Regions from separate parts of the Homo sapiens genome. Here regions 2 and 3 are each linked to region 1. Evidence: fine-mapped QTL for protein levels in blood plasma. Region 1 holds a variant in brackets. A gene starts in each other region. All regions are shown on their reverse strands.

Region 1 (8,268 bases):
CACCCCGGCTTCCTCCCCAGCCACCTGTCCGCCATACCTTCCGACCTGGCCCTGCTGGGAAGTACTTGAGAGTAGGGAAGCCGTGCACAGCGAAGGCATCCAGCTCGTTGGCCGTGGCATCCAGCTCAGCAATGATGATGTCCTCGTGGTCTTGGTACTTCTCAGCCAATGCCTCCCAGGCAGGGGCCATCTCCTTGCAGTGGGTGCACCACGGGGCATCTAGGATGGGAGCCGTTGAGCACAGCCATCTGGGCAGCCCCTGCCCAGCCCACACCACCCCTGCCTCCCTCAACACTCACAGAACTTGACAAACACATTCTTGGTTTCGTCAAAAGCCACCTGCTCAAAATTCTTGCCCACGAGGGTCTTAACTGGCCGCTGATCCCAATCAGGGGGTATCTCCTGGCTCAGGAGATAGGGCTGGGGGAAACCAGGACAGGCGCTTTGCCAGGGGTCCTCTGCAGGGTTCAGGAGGTCCTGTGCAGGGCCTGGGGGGTGGGGGGGAGGTCCTGTGCGGGGTCAGCGGCAGGGGGAGGTTCTGTGTGGGGGGGGCGGTGGGGGGGAGGTCCTGTGCGGGGCCGGGGGCAGGTGGGGGGGAGATCCTCTGCAGGGCCTGACAGGGAGGTCCTCTTCAAGTTTGGGAGAACTGTGGGGTTTAGTGGGGGGAGGGAGAACTGTGGGGTTTGGTGGGGGGAGGGACCTCTGTGGGGTTGGGGTTGAGGTTGGGGTTGGGAGAACCGCGGGGTTGGAGAACCGCGGGGTTGGGGTTGGGAGAACCGCGGGGTTGGGAGAACCGCGGGGTTGGGAGAACCGCGGGGTTGGGGTTGGGGTTGGGGTTGGGGTTGGGAGAACCGCGGGGTTGGGGTTGGGAGAACCGCGGGTTTGGGGTTGGGAGAACCGCCGGGTTGGGGTTGGGAGAACCGCCGGGTTGGGAGAATTGCCGGGTTGAGGGGGGCCTCTGCGGGGCCTGCAGGGGCAGGGGGCTCTGAGAGCTGCTGTTCCCACCCCCTGCCAAGCTGGTGGGATGAGGTCAGGGTTCCCCTTCCATTATGAGCAGTCTGCAGCGGACCTTGACTTGGCCGTTGAGGACTGCATGGCAGAAAGCAGTGATGGACGCTGCGGTGACAGGGCCCCCATCCACAGGCGCATACTTCTTAGTGGTTTCAAGGTTGACCAAGCGCAGAGTGGGGGCTGCCTCAGCCTTGAGTCCAAAGTACTGCAGCACGTGCTCATTGTCGGCCGCCACGTCCACCACCACGAACAGCACCTGTGGCAGGGAGTCCATGCTGGCACCGGCCACTCTCCCGCTGCCCCTTTCCCCCAGCCCCCCAGTACCTGCCCCCGGAAGCGGGGAGCTGCCTCCCCAAAGCCCGCTAGGAGCTCCCGGTGCGCAGCCAGCGTCTGGTTGACAAACAGCAGCAGGTGGTTGAGGATCCTGGCCGCGAAGATCTTGGCAGACGTCTACAGTAGGGAGGGTGCTCATGACTCCACAGGACCCCCAGCCTAGGCACCCCCATCCCTGGACGACTCTACCCTGGGACACCCCCAGCCCAGGCACTGCAGCCTACGCACCTGGCTGTTGAACTCCGTGACCAGGCGCATGCTGTGTGTGACCAGGAAGCGCGACAGATCCCCCAGGTCCAGGCCAAGCTCCTCGTCCACGGGGAAGTCTGCCCGCCCCTCATCAAACTGGACAGCAGCAGGTGGGTTAGCGGGCGCTGCAGCCGGACCCCAACCCACACCTGGGCCTGACCTACCTTCTTGAAGAGAACCACAGTGTCCTTGGTGAGGCCAAACTGCTGAAAGAGCCGCGGCCGGTCTGTGAGGCCAAAGGTCATGTCCAGGGCGTCCTGGGCCAAGGCCAAGAAGGTGGCCACGTCCTCGTCCTGCAGGTCCTGAGGGGCCTGGCCCTGTGAGGCCACCCGGTCCCACCCACAGTCACTGCCCTCATGGCCCGGCCCCCCATGCCCAGTGGCTCACCTGGAAGAAGCCAATGACCACTAGGTCCCGGCCACCGATCAGCGCCTGGGCGGCCGCCTCGTCCTCCAGCCGCATGGCACTGGGCCCCACCCGCCGTCGCAGCCACTCGGCAATGCCCTCAGCGTCCCGTGGTCCTGCAGGGAGTCCCCCTCAGCCTCGGCCTGGCCACCGCCCCCCCAATGACCGGCCTGCCCCTCACCTGTGTACTCCTCCGGGTGCGTGCGGTTCCCATTGCGGAAGAACTTGAGCGTAGGGTACTCCGTCACACCAAACTCCTCAGCCAGCTCGCGCTGCGCGGGCCCATCCACCTTGGCCAGCGTGACCACCATTGACTCGGCCGCGAGCACGGCAGCTGCCTTGCTGTACTCGGGGGCCAGGGCCTGGCAGTGCCCACACCACGGGGCATCTGGGGGATGGGGCCGTGAGTGCCCCAGGCCACCACAACCCCAGGAGCACCCTCTCCACACCTGACAACCCAGCAGGGAACAAGCGTGCTGCTCCATTCTGCCCTGAGCCCTGGCCGTGGACAAGCCGAGCACCAGTGCCTCTTCGTGGCCCCCCAGGCTGCAGCACAGGGACCAGTAAGGCTTGGGAGAGCTTGAAAGACCACCCCCCCTCCCCCCACAGCCAGGCTCAGTGGCTCACGCCAGTAATCCCAGCACTTTGGGAGGCAGAGGCGGGCATATCACCTGAGGTTGGGAGTTCGAGACCAGCCTGACCAACATGGAGAAACCCCATCTCTACTAAAAATACAAAAAATATTAGCCGGGATTGGTTGCGTATGCCTATAATCCCAGCTACTCGGGAGGCTGAGGCAGGAGAATTGCTTGAACCTGGGAGGCGGAGGTTGCAGTGAGCCGAGATAGGGCCACTGCACTCCAGCCTGGGCGACAAAAGCAAAACTCCATCTCAAAAAATAAAAATAAAAAGACCCCTCCCTTTCGTGCCTTGTATGGCTGGGGCTCCCGGGCCCATGTGGCTGCCTGTGAAGGCCTCCTAGGCAAGAACAGTTCCTATGTGTGTCAAGGGTTGCGAAAAGACCACAGGGCACACACGTCAGGGACCTCCATGGGCCCCCAAAGCCTGGATACTGCCCGAGCCTCTGCAGAGTCTGTGGGATGCCCCTGGCAGCTGGAGGAGTGGCCGGCAAGGTGGTGACTCTGGCACCGTGGCCGCTGGCCGAGCAGGGAGGCACAGGTGTTCTCAAGTCCTGTGGGTACCCCCAGTACTACCACACTGCTCCTGCCTGCCCCAACCAGACCCCCAGGCCCCTCCTAGAGAGCTCCTGGGCACAGTGGGGGCAAGTGCCTGCGGGGAGGCCCCTCTTGGGCACATGCCCTGCATTTGCCGGCAAAGGGTGGGGCCCCCAGGTGGGCTCTGCCGGTCCCCCGCCGGTCCCCAGCCCCACTGGCCCCAGCACTCACAGAATTCCACCAGCAGGGCAGGGTGCTCCCGCAGGGCCAGGCCCAGGGTGTGGCGGCTCAGCACCAAGATCCCATCCTCCTTGGGGATTTCCTCCTCTGGAGGCTCCTCCGAGGGGCTCCTCGCTCCCTGTTCCTGACCCCATGGGCACGAAGCCCTGAGCAGCAGCAGCAGCAGTACAGGCAGAAGCTGGCGGCTCATGGTGCTGCCAGGGCGCGTGGGGCGGGGGCAG[A/G]TAAGGGGGCCAGAAGCCAAGCAGCAGCTGCCACGTGGCACACAGGCCCAGTCCCAGCAAAGACAAGGCCCATGCGGCCGCCCCCGGCCCCCAGGGGAGGGGAGGCAGAAAGAGACGACACCCAGGGCACCGAGAGAGACAGGGCCATGTTTAATGGGACAGCTCAGGGGACAGCGCCAGGCCAGGGGGTCCCGGGACAGAGCAGGGGCAGCAGGGGCAGCAGGGGCAGCAGGGGAGGGTCTGGTCACTCACGGGGGGTGCTGGGGATGCTTGGGGGTCCCTGTGCAACAACTGAGGGAGGTAGGGGAGACACGGACTGGGGGTTCAGTCCTTCCAGTCCTGGCAGATGCAGAGACCCCACTCCCAGGACAGGTGGTGCGTCCTGTCATCGTCGGTGAAGAGGGACACCACCAGATAGGGGCCCCGCACCAGCGCACCCCTCGGCGCTTCCTCCACCGGAGTCACAAACTCATACTCCTGGGCGCTCGGGCCATAGCTGCCCACCATGTAGACGGTCTTGTCCACTAGGGAGGGCGAGGGCATCAGAGCTGTCCTCTGTCTGCCCCCGCTTCCCCCCCCCGCCCCGTTCCCCCCACCGCTGCCCTCACCGCGCAGGCCCCGGCGGTAGGTGTGGTGCAGACACTTGAGGCCGCTGACAATCTCCCTGTGGACCTGGGAACAGAGGCATTAGGGGTTCCTCTGGGGGCCAGGCCTCTGGCTGTTGCCCCCACCCCCATCCCCTCCGCCCATTGCCCCGGCTCTCACCTTGAAGGAGATCTTCACTCTGTAATCAACACCTTCCTTCAGGACAAACACCTGGTCCTTCAGAACAGCCAGGTCCCCTATTGGGGAAACCTCAGCTAGGGTCGGAACTCCCCTACAGGCTGAGACCTGCTCCAGGAGCCCCCACGTAGGGTGTGGTACCCATGAGGTGTGCGACTGTGATGGCCCAGGGCTCGGAACTCAGGGGTGCAGAAGCGTGCCTGGGAGGGCCCTACCTGTGTTCAGGGTGCAGCATCCTGCGAGTTACCTGTGAGATCCATGACGACGGGCCCCGGAGCCTGTTCCGACAGGAGTGTCAGCCTGGTCACCTGCACATTGGGCAGGCTTGGGTCTGAGGAGAAACTGGAAGTCTGCAGGATGCCCCCCACCCCCACCAGGCTCCTCACCAGCCCCCCAGACCCAGCCCTCCAAGCCTAGACCCCTGCCATACCCACGGCCGGTGGCAGGGGCCCCAGCAGCACCCGCTTGTACTTGGCCAGGCTCCTGTCGTCCGGGTCCAGCTGCCGGATCTCCAAGAGGCTCTTCCTCCCCGGCGCCCGGTACTCGGGCACAGCCTCATCCAACACCTCGTCCACTGCCGGCGGCCCACCCTCCTTGTCAGCCAGGAGGACTGGGGGTGGGGAGGGGCGTGAGCAGCAGCCACTAGCGGACCCTGGCATTCGAGCACCAGGCTGGAGCCCCCTCTGGCCAGCTGTACCTCCCACTATCCAAAGGGACTCAAGGGAAGCCTCTGGGGGCTCAGGGAGAGAGCGAGCAGAGAGAGCAGGGCGGCCTGGGGAGGTGCCGCACCGCACCCAGACCTTCAGGAGGGGCCTCCAGAGACCGCCAGGCCTGCAGCTCCTCTGGCCCAGATGTCCACAAGGGCCCCCTCCCTGACTCGGAGACCAAAGGGCGGGGGAGCGAAGACTTCAGATGAGGGCAGCCCAGGGTCAGGGGCTACCTGCTAGAGAGCAGCGGCCCTCGGCGGCCCCCAAACCTACTGACCCTCTAGGGCCCTCGGCGGCCCCCAAACCTACTGACCCTCTAGGGCCCTCGGCGGCCCCCCAAGCCTACTGACCCTCTAGGGCCCTCCACCACCCTGCTCTGGACTGGGGTCTCTGAACACTTTCCCACAGTCTAGGAGTTCCTCCCCATGGTGCTCGGGTGCCGGGGGCGGCTGTCTCCAAATCCCTGGGCTCAGGCTCTGCGCCGCCTCCCATGGCGCCCCGGGCTGGTGGCCTCCTGAAGCCCCTCTCCCTGGTGCCCTGGGCAGGGGTTTCTGAGTCCCTGCCCACTTCGCTCCCGTCTTCTCGGGGATCACCACACGCCCTACAGAGCCTGAGCCCCAGCCCCAGCCCCACCCAAGACAGAGGGGCTCCAGGCGGCGGTGTCCAGGGGGAGAGGGTCCCAGCGCCGCCGCTTCCCAAGCCGACCCGTCCGCACCTGGTCCCTTCCCCACAGGGCTGGAGCCTGGATGAAGTCCCCCACCCCTGCCAGACCCCAGCCGGGGGGTCGGCGCCGCGAGGTCCCCATGCGCGCCCCCAAAGTTGCCGCGGGGGAGGGGCTACTCCCCGCCCGGGGCTGAGACCAGCCGAGCCCCCCGCCCCTGCCCGGCCCGCTCACCTCGGGCGCACAGCGCCAGCCGGAGCAGCTCCAGCAGCTGCGCCCCCAGCTCGCACGCGTCCAGGCCCAGCATGGCGGCGCGCGGCCCGGGCGCCGCGGAGCCGCCGAGGAGCCGCCGCCCGCCCCGCCGCCGCCCCGCTCGGCGCTCAGCCCCGGCGCGACTGCGGTGAGCTCATCCCGGCCGGGAGCGCCCCCCGCGCCCAGCCGCGCCCGGCAGAGAGCCCCCAGCCGCTCCGGACCCCGCGCAGCCCCGCAGAGACGCGCGTGTCGCCCGCACGGGCCGGCACCCGGGTCGCCCCCGCCGGCGTGCCAGGACCCCGCACAGAAGCGCCCGGACGCGGACGCACGCAGCCGCGGTCACGATCCCCGCCGCCCGCCCGGCCCGTGCCCGGCTCTGGCCAGCAGGGCTGCCCCACCCCCACGGCGCGGCGGGAGCCCGAGGGGGTCTCCTGGGAAACCCTCTGCGGGGCGCCGTGGCGCAGGTGCGCCCCCATCCCCAGGGTCTCATTATCCGCGGCCACACCTGGGGCCGGACCGCGCGCCCCCTTCCCCTCCCCCGCTCCTGAGGGAGCTTCTGTCTGGGCCGAGGGGGACTCCGGGGGCCTGCCCAGCCTTGGGGTGAGGGGCTGGCCCAACACCCTACAGGTTCACGGTCATCAGTAGGGCGGGACCACAGTGGGCGCGGGTCGCACGCACACCCAGGAGGCAACAAGGGCCCCTCAAAGGCTTAGCGACCTGGCTGCGCTGTGTGAGTTCCCAAGAGGGGGTGTCCCTGCAGGGCTCTTGGAAACCCAGTTACCGAGCCCCCTGTCCTCAGGGAGAGGACACTGACAAGGGGGCGGAGTACAGAGACCGGAGCACAGAGGGGGCTTCTGATATTGACACCTAAACTGAGACCTGTGGGTGGGTGGGGGGGATGGGACCCGGCAGGGGACAGGGGTGAGCAGGCCCTGGCTGGGACAGCTGGACCAAAGGCCTGCGTCTGGATAAGGGAGAAGGGGTCCGAACACCAGCCTGAGTCCCTTTCTTAGACACCCCTGGCCGGTTCCAGGGACACCAGAAATTAGACCCGCCCTTGCCAAAGAGCTCCTCAATTGAGAGAAGACCACCTTGGGTGCTAGGGGGCATTGGGGTTTGGGTGGGGACTGTCTCCCTTGCCCCCCAACTGCCCACAACCTTTCCAGGGCAGGATCCTATGAACTTGTGCCCAGGCCCCCCTAGAGCGCCACCTCTGCTGACCCTTCGCTGCAGGGAGCGGGGGCTGTTAGGACACTTGTCCCCAGGCCCACAGCTCCAGCTCCTGCAGCTGTTACCAGATAGAAGGTCTTGGAGGTGAGTTGTCCAGGTTCTTGGTGGGTTGAACAAAGAATTGAACAAAACGCACAAAGTAACAAAAGAACAACGAAACACAAGGAAACAAAACTGAGTCAGAAGAACGGAGTAAGGAAAGCACAGATTTAACGGAAGGCAATTCACAGAGTGGGAGTGGGCTGGAGCAAGTAGCTCCAGAGCCTCTGTAATTAGGATTTTTATTAAGCAAAGAAACCTGACCACAGCCCTTGTGCCCTTTAGAGGCCTCCAATTGGCTACACCCTATGAAGGATTGGCCCGAGACCAATCAGAGGTGAAGTGGAAATTTCTGTCTTGTTATCACAGCAGCCAGGATGTGGCTTGTGAGCTGCCCAATCCTGCCTAGAACTGGCTGCACCTGCTGTTCCGTTTCTTATGCCCAACCCTTGGCTACCCTCATTCCCTATTCTGCCTCACAGCTACCATGGGTGCCCACCCCTGCAGACAGGGCAGCCAGACCTGGGCCACCTCACCCCACCTGGGTGTGGGGCATGGGAGGGCTCACTGGGATCCAAGCGAGATGGTACCCTGGAGTAAGAGACCCCACAAGCCCCCTGCCCCAGCTCATGCTGAACGTGGCCTCTCCGGCAATGGAAATGGACTCAGACCACTATGTTAGGGGCTCCCAGCCCAAGGCCAACCGCCCACCCTGCCCAGCCCCTAGCACCCTCTGAGTGGGTAAGGATGGGGAGAGGTACTCTGCCTCCAAGAAAGCAGAAATAGACCAGATGCGGTGGTACACATCTGTAGTCCCAGCTACTCAGGACGCTGGGGTGGGAGAATCACTTGAGCTCAGGAGTTTGAGGCTGCAATGAGTTTATGATTGCACCACTGCACTCCAGCCTGGGTGACAGAATGAGACTGCCATCTCTCAAAAAATAAATACATAGCCAGGTGCC
Region 2 (7,694 bases), not on the chromosome of region 1:
TCCCTTCCTTCAGCAGGGTCTGGAGGGAAGGATAAGAATAATAATGCCATCTACCCATCAGGGGTGTCCAATCTTTTGGCTTTCCTGGGCCACATTGGAAGAAGAATTGTCTTAGGCCACACATACTAACACTAATGATAGCTGATGAGCTAAAAAATTACAAAAAAGTCTCATAATGTTTTAAGAAAGTTTATGAATTTGTGGTGGGCCACATTCAAAGCCATCCTGGGCTGCATGCAGCCCATGGGCCGCAGGTTGGACAAGCTTGCCTTACTTATATAGTGCTCACTATGTATTGGTCACTCTTCTGGGCATTTATAGGTATTTATTTATTTAATTCTCACAATACCCTATGACATGCATGCTACTATTATCCTGATTGTATAGATAAGGCAACTGAGGCACAGAGAGGTTAACTAACTTACTCAAGATCAATCAACTAGCAAGTGGCTGAGACATAATTTGAACCCAGGTAGTCTGGCCCTAGAATCTTTACCCTGCATCATATTTCAAGAGTCCAAACCCATGAACCTCTGCCCTCCCATGTCTTCTTCTCTTCTGGATGAGCCTGTGGTCAGAGTGTAACCCAAGTTTCCCTCAATGGGCAAAGGCTAGCACAGGAATTTGGACCTGACCTGATGGAAGGTGGCTCCATCCAACAGGACCCCATCTCGGAACCACAGCAATTCAGGGGTAGGGCGGGCATCCCCACGGCTCCGACATGTCAGGTTCGCAGGAACTCCAGCAACCAGAGACACAGAGGGGCCGCCCAGCACCTGGGGGGCTTCTGGGGGGACTGCAAGGTGGATTTGGGGTCAGAGATGGATCCTGATCTTCTCAGCTCCAATTGACCATGCCCCTGGGCTCCCTGGGCTCTGCTACTCACAGCTAGTACGGGCTGCCCTCTTGGGCTCCCAGGGGACAAGTGGGCGAGGTCCTTACCCAGCACGTGCAGTTGGGCTGGTCTGGAGCGGAGGCCTGCTTGTGTAGCCTGACATTCATATGATGCTTCATCCTCTAGCTCCACGGGCCTAATGTGGAGGTCATGCTGGCCATTGGCTGCATTCCCTGATATCCAGTACCGGGACCACCCTGGAGTCAGGGAGAAGGCAGTCAGCACACCATGGTTCTGAAATCCTGGCCTCAGGCCTCCATCCCCAGACATCCTCCACCAGAAAACTGGCCCACACATTTGGTGGTAAGACACTATTAAAAAGTGTGTACTGGGCCCAGAGAGACTCTAACTCCCTCCCAACCCAGAGTCACTGCAAACTTAGGGGTAATAAAGTCAGGAAGGAAAGCAAGAAAATGATTGCCATAAAAATTAGGTTAGATACTACTTCTGGAGTGAGGGGGAGGGGGCTATGATAGGGGAAAGGAACACGGGGTCTTCTGGGGAGCTAGCAATGGACTTGGGTATTGGCTGTGTGTGTCTATTTTATTTGGTAAATCTTCCATTTATATTTACTGTACTTTTTTGCATTTATGTTCTCTTTTTTTTTTTTTTTTGAGACAGGGTCTCACCATTGCCTGAAGTGCAGTGGCTTGATCATGGCTCACTGCAGCCTTGAACTCCTAGGCTCAAGCAATCCTACCACCTAAGCCTCCTGAGTAACTGGGACTATAGATGCACACCACCATACCCGGCTAATTTGTTTAAAATATATATATACATTTGTGTAGAGATAAGGTCTTGTTATGTTGCCCAGGCTGGTCTCAAACTCCTGGTTTCAAGCGATCCTCTGGCCTCAACCTCCCAAAGCGTTGGGATTACAGGCGTGAGCCACTGCACCTGGCCTATGTACTATTTTGCAATAACATAATAATTCCCAAACTCCGTGGGTCACCCCCAAAGAAGCAGCTCAAAAATCAGGACTCCTAAATGTTTACCCGAGCCCATCAATTTCCCAAACTTGAAAATGTCAAAATAGAAACTGCAGGTACAGCCGAGCCCAGCAACTCTCCCCCTAGCCAGCCCGTCCCAGCGTGGAGAGAACACTCTTACCTGGTAGGTCCCTTTGGCCCCCTAGGGCCAGCCCACTCTTAGTCCACTGAACTAGCCCCCAGTAGGCGCCCAGAGCACACGGCAGCCGGGCTTCCTCCCCCAGCAGCACCACCAGGTCCTCTGGCTGTTGCAGGAAATGGGGCGACGGGCCTAGGAGAGTTCGGGGCAGCAGGGCTGAGCTTAGCACCTTCAGGGGCCTCCTCATTCAGGACCCAGGAGTCCCAGCCCCCAGCTCCCTTCTCGCTAGTGAAGAGGCAGCCCGCAAGCAACTCCCCACCCCCACCCCATATTCCTCCGCTCCCCTCGTGCGGTACCTGCTCTCCCTCTGAAGCAGAAGAGGAGGACGAGGAGGGCGGGGACCCGCATCCTGAGCATTCGTCCCCCAAGGTTCACGAGATTTGCCGTCGCACTGGCCTTCCCGTCAACTTCTTCCTCTCAAGCACGCCTCCTGTCACCCTGGCCCGGAGCCCCCTTCACGCTCGACTCTTCGCCCAGCCTAGTCTCTGGCCTGGAGTCCTCCAAGTCTGCTCATCCGCAGCCTCTGACGCTCTGAAACGCCTGCCAGTTCCGCGGCCTGGGTCTCTGGGAGACCCCAAGAGGGCCCGATCCCGCTCGCCCCGCCCGGGTCCGCCCCCCGGGAGCTCCGCCCTCTTCCCGTTGAGAAACTCCCGCGGCTGAGACGCGGATGAATGGGGGACGCAGGGCGGGATCCCCCGGCGGGTGGGCGCCCCCAGCTCAATTGGGGTCTGGGAGCCGGAACACCTGGGTTCGAGGAGGGAGGGGGTCCCGGCTGGGTTGGACACCTGCGCCCTGCCGGGGTTGAGGGGCAGGCAAGGGGTGAGGAGGAGGGAAGGGAGAGAGTGGAAGAAACTTGCTCAGCCCAGGTCCTAGAGGGACTGCGCTCAGTGGAAACTGAGCTATAAATGGGAGCTCCTGGGGCCTCGCCAGTTTCCGCGCCCTGGGGGATGCGGGGTCCGGGGCTCCCCCGGGCCTGCGTGTCGGGAAGAGGGCACACCGATACCTGGGGGACAGTTGGGACCCCTACCTCGACTCCCCCAGCCTCAAAACCCCTCCTCAAAATATCCCTCTGTTCCCTTGTTATTGCTGCAAACTACAGCACGTCCTAAGACCCAGGAATCCAGGCCCTCGGCCCCTCCTTTCCCAGGACCCCGCAGTCCCAGCCCAACCCCTCTCCCCACTCGGCCGGCCGGGCCCCTCGGCCTGGTTGCCCGGCGACGGCTGGGAGGCGGCGGTGCCGGGCCGGGGCAGGCAGGGAGGCTGGGAACCGCGCAGCTTGTCCTGACGGCTCCATGCAGCCCAGCTGGGGCGTTCCCACGCTGCGCAGCTGGCCGAGCAGGTGGGAGGGACCCCGAGCAGCCTGAAGGAGGGCTGGGGGGCTGGGACCCTGATCTGACATTCCTGGACCTGTAAGAACTGGAGGGTCCACATTCAGATTCTCCACTGTTCTTAGGCTCAGACTCCGTGTCCCTAAATGGGGGAGTGGGGTTGGGAGTGGGGGTTGGACTTACAGGGTTATAAGGGACTGGTGGTTCAGGCCTTTGCTGGCTGAGACGCTGATGGCCTGATCTCCCGGTTCCTTGAGAGGCTGGAGACTCAAGGTGCACTCAAGTGCATGGTGCACTTGGAAGAGGGTGACAGGGGTCAGAATATCTGGTCTTAAGTCTTAAGAGTCGGTGGATCTATCTGCCAATCTCTCCCCACCCCCACACAGGCCCAGGAGGATTTGGAAATCAGACCGTGAACATCTGTCCTAAGTCCTGTGTGTATGTGTGTGTGTGTGTGTGTGTGTGTGTGTGTGTGTGTGTGTGTGTGTGTGTATGGGGAGGTGCGGGGGTGGGTAGTGTGGCCAGGAGGATCAGAGGCCCAAATTCCCGAGTCCTTGGAGAGAAGGGACTGAGACCCCAGGGTCTGAGAGGGGAGGGATCTGGGGGCCTACACTCCCGGCTTCTGTGTGGCTTATCTAGTGCCTGGATTTTGAAATAGGATGGACATGGGGCTGGAACTCCTGAGTCTTAGGGAGGAACTCAAGTCATGGGGCTGTTTTTCCAGGCACTTGACGCCGCTTCCCCTTCCTGGCTCTCTGGGGCTACGGACATGGAAAGATGGAGAGCCCAAGGTCCCAGGAGCATGCAGAGAAGGAAAACAGCCAAGGTGGAGGGTGGAAGGTTTGTGCTTATTAAAGGCCCCAGCAAGGGACAGCTCCACGCTCTGGCACCTAGGGACACCATCTGGCGAGGGCCCCCAGGACAGAGCCACTCCCCCAGCTCGGCATCCAGCCCATTTCCCAGGGGGTGTAGAGAGCAGTTGGGAGAGGGGAGGTGGGAGGAGGGCAAGGAGTCAAGCATGTGAGGGAAGATGGAAGTCCAGCATCGAGGATGAAGCTGGGGGCTGAGGCCAGATGCCTCATCTTGTTCCTGGGAACGATATTGGCGGGGGTCTTGGGGAGGTAGGGAGAAAACTAGCATTTCCAATTCCCGCAGGAGATAAGCAGGCAGAAGAAGCTTATCCCAGGCAAGTGTATGTGCACGCGGGGAGGGCAGGCCCACCAGCATATGGTTATAAAATCCAGGGATGTGATGAGCAGAGCCACTCGGAGATGGAGAGACACATAAGAGAAAGAGGCGTGGTCAGAGTGTGGCTGAGAACAAATATTTATGGAGCTCCTGGTGTGTGTGAGACAGACTGTGGGGTGAGGGGAGCGACAGAGGTGAGAACAGAGACAGAGAAACAGAATAACAGAGACATATAGAGATGGAGAGACACAGTGAAATAAAGATTGACTGAGATTTAACAACTTAATATAGAGAGCGAGAGAGTCTCAAACAGATGGAGAAAGATAGAAAGATAAATCAGCTGGGCACAATGACTCACGCCTGCAATCCCAGCACTTTGGGAGGCCGAGTCAGGCTGATCACCTGAGGTCAGGAGTTCGAGACCAGCCTGATCAACATGGAGAAACCCCGTCTTTACTAAAAATACAAAAAATTAGCCAGGCGTGGTGGCGCATGCCTGTAATCCCAGCTACTAGGGAGGCTGAGGCAGGAGAATCGCCTGAACCCGGGAGGCAGAGGTTGCAGTGAGCCGAGATCACACTATTACACTCCAGTCTGGGCAACAAGAGTGAAACTCCATCTCAAAAAAAGAAAAAAGAGAAAAAAGAAAAAAAAGAAAGATAAATCAAGGGCCAGGTGCGGTGGCTCATGCCTGTAATCCTAGTACTTTGGGAGGCCGAGATGGGAGGATTGCTTGAGCCCAGGAGTTCCAGACAAGCCTGGGCAATATAGCAAGACTCTGTCTCTGCAAAAACATTTAAAAAAAATTAGCCAAGTGGCGGGGTGCAGCGGCTCCCACCTGTAATCCCAGCACTTTGGGGGGCCAAGGCAGGTGGGTTACCTGAGGTCAGGAGTTCGAGACCTGCCTGGCCAACATGGCGAAACCCCGTCTCTACTAAAAATACAAAAATTAGCTGGGTGTGGTGGTCAATGCCTGTATTCCCAGCTACTCAGGAGGCTGAGGCAGGAGAATCGCTTGGACCTGGGAGGCGGAGGTTACAGTGAGCCAACATCGCACCATTGCACTCCAGCCTGGGTGACAGAGCAAGACTCCCTCTCAAAAAAAAAAAAAAAAAAAAAAAAATAGCCAGAGTGGTGATGCGGGCCTGTAGTCCCAGCTACTCAGGAGGCTGAGGCAGAAAGAACACTTGAGCCTAGGAGGTTTGAGGCTTCAATGAGCCATGATCACACCACTGCACTCCAGCCTGGGCAATAGAGAAAGACCCTGTCTCTACAAACAAATTTTAAAAAATTAGCTGGAGTGGTGGTGTGCACCTGTAGTCCCAGCTATTCAGGAGGCTGAGGCAGGAGGATCACCTGAGCCCAGGAAGTTGAGGCTGCAATGAACCAAGATCATGCCACTGCCCTCCAGCCTGGGCAACAGAGCAAGATTCCATCTCAAAAGAAAGAAAGATAAATCAAGATAGATAGAGGGAGGGAGAGAGAGAGACATGGAGAAGGAAAGAAGAGATGGGAGAGAGGGCAAGAAAAAGAGGGAGAAGAAAGCTCATGCAGTCCTTGCCAAAGGGCGCCCACTTTGGGCTCACACTGCACCCACACTGGGGGCCGGTGGAATTGGACTCTGCCTTTTACTCCCGCCCACACCCTGTGCACTCCCACGTAAGACACTGTCACACACACGCTCTCCACATGCTTATTACAGATCGCAGTTCACTCTAACCTTCCCCACTCTCACACCCACGTACACACATGCATATCTTCCCTCTCTCCCACACTCTCCCAGCCTGTCACACTCACTCTTGCATCCTCCCCAGCAGAGATCCCTGACATCATTTAGGCACTGATGTCTACTAAAAAAGGAAGGGAGGCCAGGTGCGGTGGCTCATGTCTGTAATCCCAGCATTTTGGGAGGCTGAGGCAGATGGATCACCTGAGGTCAGGAGTTCGAGACCAGCGTGGCCAACATGATGAAACCCCGTCTCTAGTAAAAATACAAAAATTAGCCAGGCATGGTGCTATATACCTGTAGCACCAGCTACTTGGGAGACAGAGGTGGGAGAATTACTTGAACCTGGGAGGTTCAAGCCATGGGAGGTGGAAGTTGCAGTGAGCCGAGATGCCACTGCACTCCAGCCTGAGCAACAGAGCAAGACTATCTCAAGAAAAGAAAGAAAGAAAGAAAGAGACTTGCCAAGGTCATGTATCAGGGCAAGGAAGAGCTGGGGGCCCAGCTGGCTGCTCCCCTGCTGAGCTGGGAGACCACCTTGATCTGACTTCTCCCATCTTCCCAGCCTAAGCCAGGCCCTGGGGTCACGGAGGCTGGGGAGGCACCGAGGAACGCGCCTGGCATGTGCTGACAGGGGATTTTATGCTCCAGCTGGGCCAGCTGGGAGGAGCCTGCTGGGCAGAGGCCAGAGCTGGGGGCTCTGGAAGGTACCTGGGGGAGGTTGCACTGTGAGAATGAGCTCAAGCTGGGTCAGAGAGCAGGGCTGACTCTGCCAGTGCCTGCATCAGCCTCATCGCTCTCCTAGGCTCCTGGCCTGCTGGACTCTGGGCTGCAGGTCCTTCTTGAAAGGCTGTGAGTAGTGAGACAAGGAGCAGGAGTGAGGGGTGGCAGGAGAGAAGATAGAGATTGAGAGAGAGAGAGAGAGAGAGACAGAGAGAGAGGAAGAGACAGAGACAAAAGGAGAGAGAACGGCTTAGACAAGGAGAGAAAGATGGAAAGATAAAGAGACTGGGCGCAGTGGCTCACGCCTGTAATCCCAACACTTGGGGAGGCCAAGGTGGGAGGATGGCTTGAAGGAAAGAGTCTGAGATCAACCTGGCCAACATAGTGAGACCCCGTCTCTAAAAAAAAAAAAAAGAAAAAAAAAAGAAAAAAGAAAAAAAAGTTTTTTTAAAGAGACAGAGAAAGAGACTCAGAGATTGAGACTGAGAGCAAGACAGAGAGAGATACTCACAGGGAAGAGGGGAAGAGGAAAACGAGAAAGGGAGGAGAGTAACGGAAAGAGATAAAAAAGAAAAGCAGGTGGCAGAGACACACAGAGAGGGACCCAGAGAAAGCCAGACAGACGCAGGTGGCTGGCAGCGGGCGCTGTGGGGGTCACAGTAGGGGGACCTGTGATGGCCCTGGGGACGACGCTCAGGGCTTCTCT
Region 3 (8,268 bases), not on the chromosome of region 1:
GAGGAAAGATCTTGACTTTTGTAGCCAAGGTCTATATAACTTCCTCTCTACAGTATAGTTTACACTGGAAGTGGAAAGTTTTTGTTTCGTTTTGTGTTTAATCCAAATATATAAAGATGCCACTATACTGTAAAGTCATTCAATGTTTACTTTTTAATTTCATATGCTTTGGTTGGTGTTTAAAGTGTTCCTAGGTCCAGCTCCAAATTTATTCCACTTTACTTTCTTTCACATATTTTATGCTTCTTTTAAATTGTACTGAATTATTCAGAGTTATTCTAATAGTAGTTATTATTTTTCCTTTTTTTTTTTTTTTTTTTTTTTTAGACAGAGTCTCTCTCTGTTGCTTGGGCTGGAGTGCGATGGCTTGATCTCGGCTCACTGCAAACTCTGCCTCCTGGGTTCAAGCAATTCTCCTACCTCAGCCTCCCGAGTAGCTGGCCTCCCGAGTAGCTGAGATTACAGGCGCCTGCCACCATGCCTGGCTTATTTTTTTGTATTTTTGGTAGAGACGGGGTTTCACTAAATTGGCCAGGCTAGTCTCGAACTCCTGACCTCAGGCAATTCACCTGCCTCGGCCTCCCAAATTGCTGGGATTATAGGCGTGAGCCACCGTGCCCGGCCTTTTTTTCCATGCTTTATTCACCTTGTTTCCTCCAGTTGACACTTCCTATCCAACCCTTGCCAATTCTTCCCCACCTCCATGTTTCTTATTCTCAATTAAAGTCCTATCTGGAATTCAAGACCTACCTCAAATAAGTACCTAATTCTTAAAGCTTTTTAAAAAATCTTTATATATTGTTATAATATCTTTTACATGTTTATACACAGTTTGCATTGCTTATATTCTCTTGGAATGATATCTTATTGTATATGATGTTTTGGTTATTTGGGTACTGCTTCTAGTTTCCACCAATTGGAAGAAAGGTTGTGACTTAGTCATATTTGTGCCTCATTTATGCCTCAACACAGAACATTGTGTATAATAGACATTCAATAAGCATTTGTTTAAATAATAAAATTATGCAAAATGCCAAAATTATTTTCTAGAATGTATGGCACAATTTCCTCCTACTTCTCACTGATGCGCAATATAACCACTCATGGAAATAATTTGGTTCTTTTTTTTCCTAAAACTGCAAACCCCTATGGACGTGATTATAGATGCGCTTGTTTATTCATGCAGACAGTCAAACTGTGTTTTGACTATTTTAATTGCCTTATTTCAATACAGAATAATTTTTTCTTGGCTCTTTATGTCTTGATAGCTGTTAAGTAGATTAAAAAACAAAAATGGAAAACAGGAACTTCTATAATCCTCTACCCTTAGAATGGTGGATTTCTATTAAGATATATGCATTAAAAGAACAAACTCTACCAAAATTTAACTTTTAGATGTAAATTGCAGTAAACAGAATAGCAGAAGCTTAGAGAAAATTTTTCCAAATACACTCTGTGTTTTAGAAACAAAGATTTTTAGAAAAAGCAAAATTTGAGAATTTTCTCCCCACTATTTCATTTAAATAGGTCTCTTAACAAATATAATTCACTTGTGATTTTCCTCATCATTTTGTAGCTTTGAAAGCTGTATTTGATGAGAAAAACCTGTTTCCCAAGGAAATTCTGCATCATGAACGAAAAGCCAAGCAATTATGCCAAGAAAAAAGTTGTGAAGTGAAGAAAAATAAGAAGTAATTACAACAGAAAAACCTTCACTGTTACATAAGGTACAGATATAAAATGCAGAAAAAGCATCAAGAATTCTGCCTTTTATTTTATTTTATATTTAAACTTCAGGAAGTTTTCTCTTCATGGGATAATTTAGTACTGCTTTTATCTATCATCTGTCAATTTCTCTGTATTCTTAATAAAATAAATATTGAACTAAAGTGGGAGCAACATCTTGGTATTTATTCTCAAGGATTTTTATATAAAAACTTTATGATTCCAGAACAAAGTTCTAACCAGTTGCCCTTCTGGTTGTTCCTATAGACAAACACTTTTGATCAGTTTTCATTGTAAAACCTGCATTGAAATATATGAAAAGTACTGACGGAGTAAATATCTACAAATGTGAATAAGAAAACTGTTTCCACTTTTTTACACTTTCTAGTAGTTTTTAAATGATTCTCATAATGGTGATTAGACTTTGTCAATAGCACCACTTCCTGTTAATTCTTATTGGCTTTTATTCATTCTATAAACTTATTGGAAAATTACTGCATATGATCTACTTCAATAGTTTGTTATACTGTACTTTAAAATTGAATGCCATAGCACATTGAAGATGTAATAGTCTTGAAAAAAAATCAAAGGGCCTGGGGCTATATAAAGGACCCACTCTATGTGGAAAGTCAAGTGGGAAATATTTGGTTCTTTAACTTACTGCCTCTGTTTGTTGACCCATTTTTATTTACAAATATAATCATCTTCCAGGCAATATTATTATTCTGCTTTATTTATTGTGTCCTATAGAAAGAATTGGTAAATTCATTTACATAACTATAATGACTTACTGTATATTTATATTTTAAAGAGTGCTTTCAAAACCAGCTAAAGTTTAAGAAGAATTTTTCAATAACACATGTAGTAAAGGAAAATAATTTGCAATAGGTAGGGGACCACTTGGTATAGCAACTGCAAATGTCCATTGTGTTTAAACCACACAATAATCATATGAATATATTAGCTTAGAGCTAAAATATGAGATGCGAATCTATTAGGAGAGTGCTCAATTATCAATGGCAGAGTTGAGATTGGAACCCAGGTCTGTTTTACTCCCAAACCATGGTATTTGCCATTCATCATTCTGTACACTTGCTTCTTATTAGTATAAAGCCAATGGAATGAATTCTAACACTAGACTTTCCAGCACCAGTGGAGCAAATATTTTGGTTTGGTGGAGAAGGCGGTGATGGAAGGACTTTCAGAAGACAGCTGCCTATTCTAACTACATTTAAGTGTATTCTGAGTTAGGCATTATGACTTCTATTCATATCGCCTTTCCTCCTCATGGAATGAAAATTACATGCAGGAAAGATTGTAGGAGAAAAGTATATTTGTCTCTGTGTGTGTGTGCGTGTGTGTTTGTCTGTTGGGTGGTGTGATGATGTACAAGAAGTGTCCTTGTTTTAGAAAAATATAATAATAGAATGTTTAAGTATGATAGAAATTATGTTTTTAGCTTGCTATAAAATGATTCAGAAAATACTAATTATATGTATATATAAAATGTATATATATGCACACACAGGTAACACATATACATATCTATATTTACATCTGTTTGCTTATTGGGAGGATAGATACATAGATGAAACACACACATGCGGTAGATGCTAACAATTGGGGAAAGAGGAGGAGGTGGAGATAGCAGTTCTTTGAACTATATCTGCAACTTTTATGTAAATTTGAAAGTATTTCAAGGTAAATTTTTTTAAAATATAAAAAGTTGCTTTTGAACAAAAAGATTATTTGAGATGTTCAAGCAGACACTGGGTAACTGTCTCACGGGGATATTGCAAAGACTTCTTGCACTGGGTAGGAGGTTTGACTGGGTAATCCATCATTTCAAACTCAGAGCACATGATTTATGAATCATAGGTTGGTGATAGTACAATGGAGTGAAATCTGAGCCACATGCCCAGAAATTTAATGGAATGTTAAGATGTTATAAAAGTAGAATGCGGGTACCAAATAATTTGCAAAGGCTCTTTTCCCCACTGATCCGTCCATCCCTCATGTAAGTATTGAAGGCATGTATAAGAGATTATTTTAGGTTCCGGGTATTCACATATAAATAGAATGCACCTTTTCTACCCTCAGCGTTCTGAAGTGAAGCTATATAAAATGTAGTGGTTTATTAAGCCAATACTAAATGAGCCCACTGGCATAAGTTGGAAATTCATAATCTGGCATATTTTTTCCAGTCTAATTTGGGAATTCTTTTGCTAGATATACTTTACTGTTTACCCTTGAAGATAACTTTGTTTGATGTGATAGCCTGAGATAGTCTGGTTCATACAGACAGACCTTCTCTCTATAGCCTACTACATGTGCATGGTATTATGCTGTAACTCTAATTCCATCCTTAATTAACATCAGGGCTTCTTCTGTAAAAGGAATTAAGAAGAGCTGTCTCATAAATATATTCAATGAGAAGAGAACTTTTAAAGGTATGAGACTTTCAAGGTAACTGTTTCTAATAATTTGGAGAAAAAACACAAAAAGAAGAAAAAAGACAATGTCTTTTTTTCTGTGTCTTACTCTTCTTTTGTAACTCACAGCATCTAATTTTCTAGGCAGGTAGCAGGATCTCACCTGTCAACTCTTAACAGAACTGAAGGCATTATAAACTGTTTCTGAAATTAACATTCAGATTCAATTACTTATGATCCATTTTTCTGTGGTAAAAGGAATTGGTCACATTAAAATAGGATATGTCATAATTTTCAATAGGCTACCTTGTTTGTATTACTTATATTTACACTAAATATAATTTAACATTTTCTTTTGTCAGAACATTTTCCTATTATCACTCAAAATTTAGGAACAATCTTACCAAAAAAAATTGCCTGAAATGAGTCCATGCTTAAATGGAAGAATTAACTTTTAAGTTCTTTACTGATGAGGGCATTTGCTTATACATTTTTAAAGTTTGGAATTAAGTGCACTTTTACTTGAAAAAACTATAAAAGGATAAGAAAATTGATGAGATGATAACTGTAACCCTTTGCTGTGGTTTTTATATATATTCCTAGGCTTATACTTTACAGTCGGACAGTAATGGCGATCAACCTTCTACCAAGACACGTTGGCTCTCATTAATGAATAATTCTCCCCCCACCCCGATTTTCTAGGAGCAAAATAGAATTGTAGAAAAAAGCGGTTTGGGAAAATATTTTAAAAATTTGTGGTAATATTTTATGGACAATTGTATTGTCGTCATTGTCTATTAAAAGAGGTTAAACCAGGGAGAATAAATTTATGGCTATTGCTTTTTACTCCTCAAGAGACAGGAAAATGAACATTCTGCCTGAACTGCTCTAATATAAGGTCCTTACAGAACAATTTCATTAAATGGTCTTAGTAGGACAGAGTGACGGTCTCTGCCATTGGTAGGAAAAGTAATGGACTATTTCTGGATAAATCACATTGTGATCTGAGCAGTGTACAGACATAATGATGTGGTAGCCAAGGGTACTGGTGATATATGTTTGCTGGTGTCAGTAAATGGGTAGAAAAGCATTGATTGAATGATAGTCTTGACATTCAGACTTAATATTTATGTATTGCAGTGTGAAGCAAGTAGAATGATAGTATTCTTGTATTGCACAACTCTTTTTGGAAAATTATCTCTGTGTTAAGTTAAAGCTACACTAGAGTGTGCTTATGATAGAGTAGGTAATATTAGAATAAAACTCAAGATCTAGAAAACATTTGGAGATGCCTATATGGGAAATCAAAAAATTTTAGTTAATTAGTAGATTATGGCCTATAATGATCTATTCTCAGGCCTATTTTTAAGTTATAGCCATGTTAGGACATGGAAAGATGTTAACAGGGTCCTCTGACAAGTTTTTAAAAATGAATTCCATTTAAAGCTATCTATATTCACTTTATTTCTTTTACATGAGTTTATCAGAAATAGTATTAAATTTGGGGATCAACAGATATTTAATTAAAAGTGAACTAAATTTTTTTTCTCTTCTCAAAGGCTATAGATAAATAATACAATGTGCTTAATATCTGATTGCCATTGAGGTGATTGATTTGAACTACAAAAATGAGATGAAACCCATTAAATTATGCAATTTTTTATTAATGACCTTTTTGCAAAGAAAATCATGTAGAGTTTCAAAAGCACATAAAGGTAACAGCAATTTTTATCATCCAATTACCTATGGCTAATAGTATTGTCCTGATATATTTTGGCAAATCCATTATCTTTTTTGCTGGCCTTTCTGCTCAGAATAAAGAACATATTTCTTCAATATCCACTCTTTTTCTTAAGGATTCAAATGGACCTTATATCCACAGGAAACTCCTCTGACTATTGTATAATTTGATGAATGTTGAGAACTCTGTCAATGCAGCAGTGATTTGTCTCTGTATTCTGGACTTGATTTAGCTTTATTCTTTTTCTCATAGGCATTCTGAAATATTTATGACAAAGTGCATTGGTAATCTGATGTAGGAGTCCTGTGAGAAACAAAAAGAACTAATTACTAGCAAATTTACAACCAGTAGCGCATCCTTTCAAATTCTGTGCAACTTTTAAAAGAAGCAAAATAATGGATAAAATAATAATATAAATTTAATACTTTTAAAAAATTCTATAATTGTTTTTTTCTCAATTCTTGCACATTTCATCAGTTGATCATTAACCCGATTGTGTTAGTTCTTAATACAAATGTAGTGAACACCTGCTTTTGTTCTAGAGGAATTAATCAAGCAATGGTCAAGATAAATGGAGTTGGCCTTGATCGCTCAGGTGTTTATGTACAAGAGTTTTCCAGCAAGCGTATTTTAGTTGTAACATTCCAGTGAATAATCAGAAGTCAGTTTGGGGTAAGTACCTTAGAAATAAATAGCTTTTGAATAAGTATGTATGCAATAACATTGCCTATGAATGTTTAGTAGAGTATGGAATGGCATTTCAATTTACTTTGGTGTAAAAATCATTTGAATTTATTTAATTAACATATCGCTTTTATTCTCCTTAAATGATTTCACCACAAATCAGAAGATCCAGTTCTTATAGGACTATTCATCAGGTTGTTTAGTTCAGCATTACTTTGTGCTTTCTGATAAGATATGATCCAAAACCTGATGAGGTAAGTGAGTTTTTAAAACCAATATTTGTCTGAGGTTATAATTTATTAAGTGCTTAGAAATTTTCTAGAAAAAATGGATGTGGATGCTCAAATAATATAAATTTAATTATTAAGATTATTAATAATAATGAGAAGGAAACTCTAATACTGAGATTCTACCACAAAGAAAAAAATTACATTTTTAATAATACTGTTCATTATTCCAATATAAACCAAATACATAAAGCTATATCTAATGTATTTCCAGTTGATAACTTAAAGGTACTAATAACATTTTGACTACGTATCTACAAACACATATTTTGGTCAGAAGTCTTCTGAGAAATTGAATATATTAGAAGATAATGATACACAGACATTTATTTTGCATGTAAAACTTCTCTTACTCACTGGTTTTTAACTATTGTTGCACTCTCATTTATAAGCTCATATGCTAAATTAATCCCTAATGAAACATTTGCTTGATATTAATAGCATATAGGTCTATATCTAAAGTTTACCAACACATTTTCTAACAATTGCTTTGGATTGTTTTTTGAGGCTTTTGTCTTTTGCAAATATATATCTAAACAAATACAGTTTAACAAAATACATTGAAGGATAAATAATGACTCCATAGTTTAATTTGGAACAATATTTGACTATTAGTAATCTTTATATATAAATATAGTTGTTCTTAGGGACTCCTACCATTTATGGTACCCTTAATGATCTGCAAAACACTCTAGAAATGTAAGTCTCTACTTAAGGCTGACAACAGACTATTCTAAAGGCTTTCATCTTTACCCCTAATTAAGGGTTACTTCCTAGTAACTTACTGATGGATAAGTTTTTAAGGATTACTAACATGTATTATTTATAAGGTAAAATTATTGTTACTAAAATTTATGAGGCCTTGGAGTCAACATTCTACCAAATATGTGGTAATATTGCAAAACTAATTCTGCTTGAGATATAATCAAATGGTTGAATTTCCTGCAATTTTAGTGGAGAGCACTTTAATAGGGTATTATTAGTCTTGTGAATTGTTTATGGTTTTTAATTGCTGCTACTCTTACATTTGTTAGTATTTCTGTCAATTCTTTGATATTATATTTCATTTTATTTATATTTTTTCTTTTATAATTTCAAGTTTTATTACAGATTAATGTACATGTGCAGGTTTGCTACATGGGTATATGGCCTGACACTAAGGTTTGGGGTATAAATGATCTCATCACCCAGGTAGTGAGCATAGTACTTTATTGTATCATTTATATTTGATTGCCATTTTGTTTCAAACTTTGCAGGTTTTCTGCATTGTATTTGTCTTCTTTTGGAAAAGCAGGAAGAGGGCTTTGGGTTATTTTGTCCTAAGAAATAAAGCGTGAGGAAAATTGTAAAAAGTTAGCCAGATTACTCAGTTGCTTTAGAATACATTAATTTTCTAATA

Direction of the effects. Positions count from the first base shown, and alleles are read on the strand shown. Strength reflects both the effect of a copy and how common the allele is.
In carriers of allele G in region 1, the plasma level of the protein whose gene starts at base 2,589 in region 2 tends to be higher than with A alone (weak association).
In carriers of allele A in region 1, the plasma level of the protein whose gene starts at base 6,531 in region 3 tends to be higher than with G alone (moderate association).

The links. PIP is the chance, under the fine-mapping model, that this variant and not a neighbour inherited with it causes the effect. The UK Biobank Pharma Proteomics Project read protein levels with antibody pairs (Olink). The fine-mapping took linkage between variants from a reference panel, not from the people measured, so its PIPs are less certain.
Region 2: KIRREL2 starts here. The variant in region 1 is fine-mapped to the plasma level of the KIRREL2 protein (UK Biobank, PIP above 0.99).
Region 3: SERPINI2 starts here. The variant in region 1 is fine-mapped to the plasma level of the SERPINI2 protein (UK Biobank, PIP above 0.99).

The regions. Positions count from the first base shown.
Region 1 is chr16:278,505-286,772 of GRCh38, reverse strand. ARHGDIG (Rho GDP dissociation inhibitor gamma) reads right to left here and starts at 6,182. Exons shown (of 6, transcript NM_001176.4): 1 at 6,020-6,182; 2 at 4,848-5,027; 3 at 4,665-4,748; 4 at 4,400-4,476; 5 at 4,243-4,306; 6 at 3,763-4,158. The coding sequence starts at 6,092. The coding sequence ends at 3,959. PDIA2 (protein disulfide isomerase family A member 2) reads right to left here and starts at 3,609. Exons shown (of 11, transcript NM_006849.4): 1 at 3,405-3,609; 2 at 2,180-2,386; 3 at 1,981-2,114; 4 at 1,758-1,895; 5 at 1,573-1,689; 6 at 1,336-1,461; 7 at 1,070-1,267; 8 at 300-420; 9 at 38-219. The coding sequence starts at 3,603. RefSeq lists an enhancer at 5,284-6,041. The variant A/G (reference allele first, on the strand shown) is at 3,635.
Region 2 is chr19:35,851,806-35,859,499 of GRCh38, reverse strand. KIRREL2 (kirre like nephrin family adhesion molecule 2) reads right to left here and starts at 2,589. Exons shown (of 15, transcript NM_199180.4): 1 at 2,320-2,589; 2 at 2,006-2,155; 3 at 943-1,092; 4 at 636-796; 5 at 1-19. The coding sequence starts at 2,380. It overlaps NPHS1 (NPHS1 adhesion molecule, nephrin), which reads left to right and starts at 6,996. Exons shown (of 29, transcript NM_004646.4): 1 at 6,996-7,694. The coding sequence starts at 7,663. RefSeq lists an enhancer at 7,068-7,694.
Region 3 is chr3:167,472,305-167,480,572 of GRCh38, reverse strand. It overlaps SERPINI2 (serpin family I member 2), which reads left to right and starts at 6,531. Exons shown (of 9, transcript NM_006217.6): 1 at 6,531-6,570. WDR49 (WD repeat domain 49) reads left to right here. Exons shown (of 19, transcript NM_001366157.1): 19 at 1,577-1,889. The coding sequence ends at 1,695. LOC105374197 (a long non-coding RNA gene) reads right to left here. Exons shown (of 3, transcript XR_924683.3): 3 at 6,113-6,201.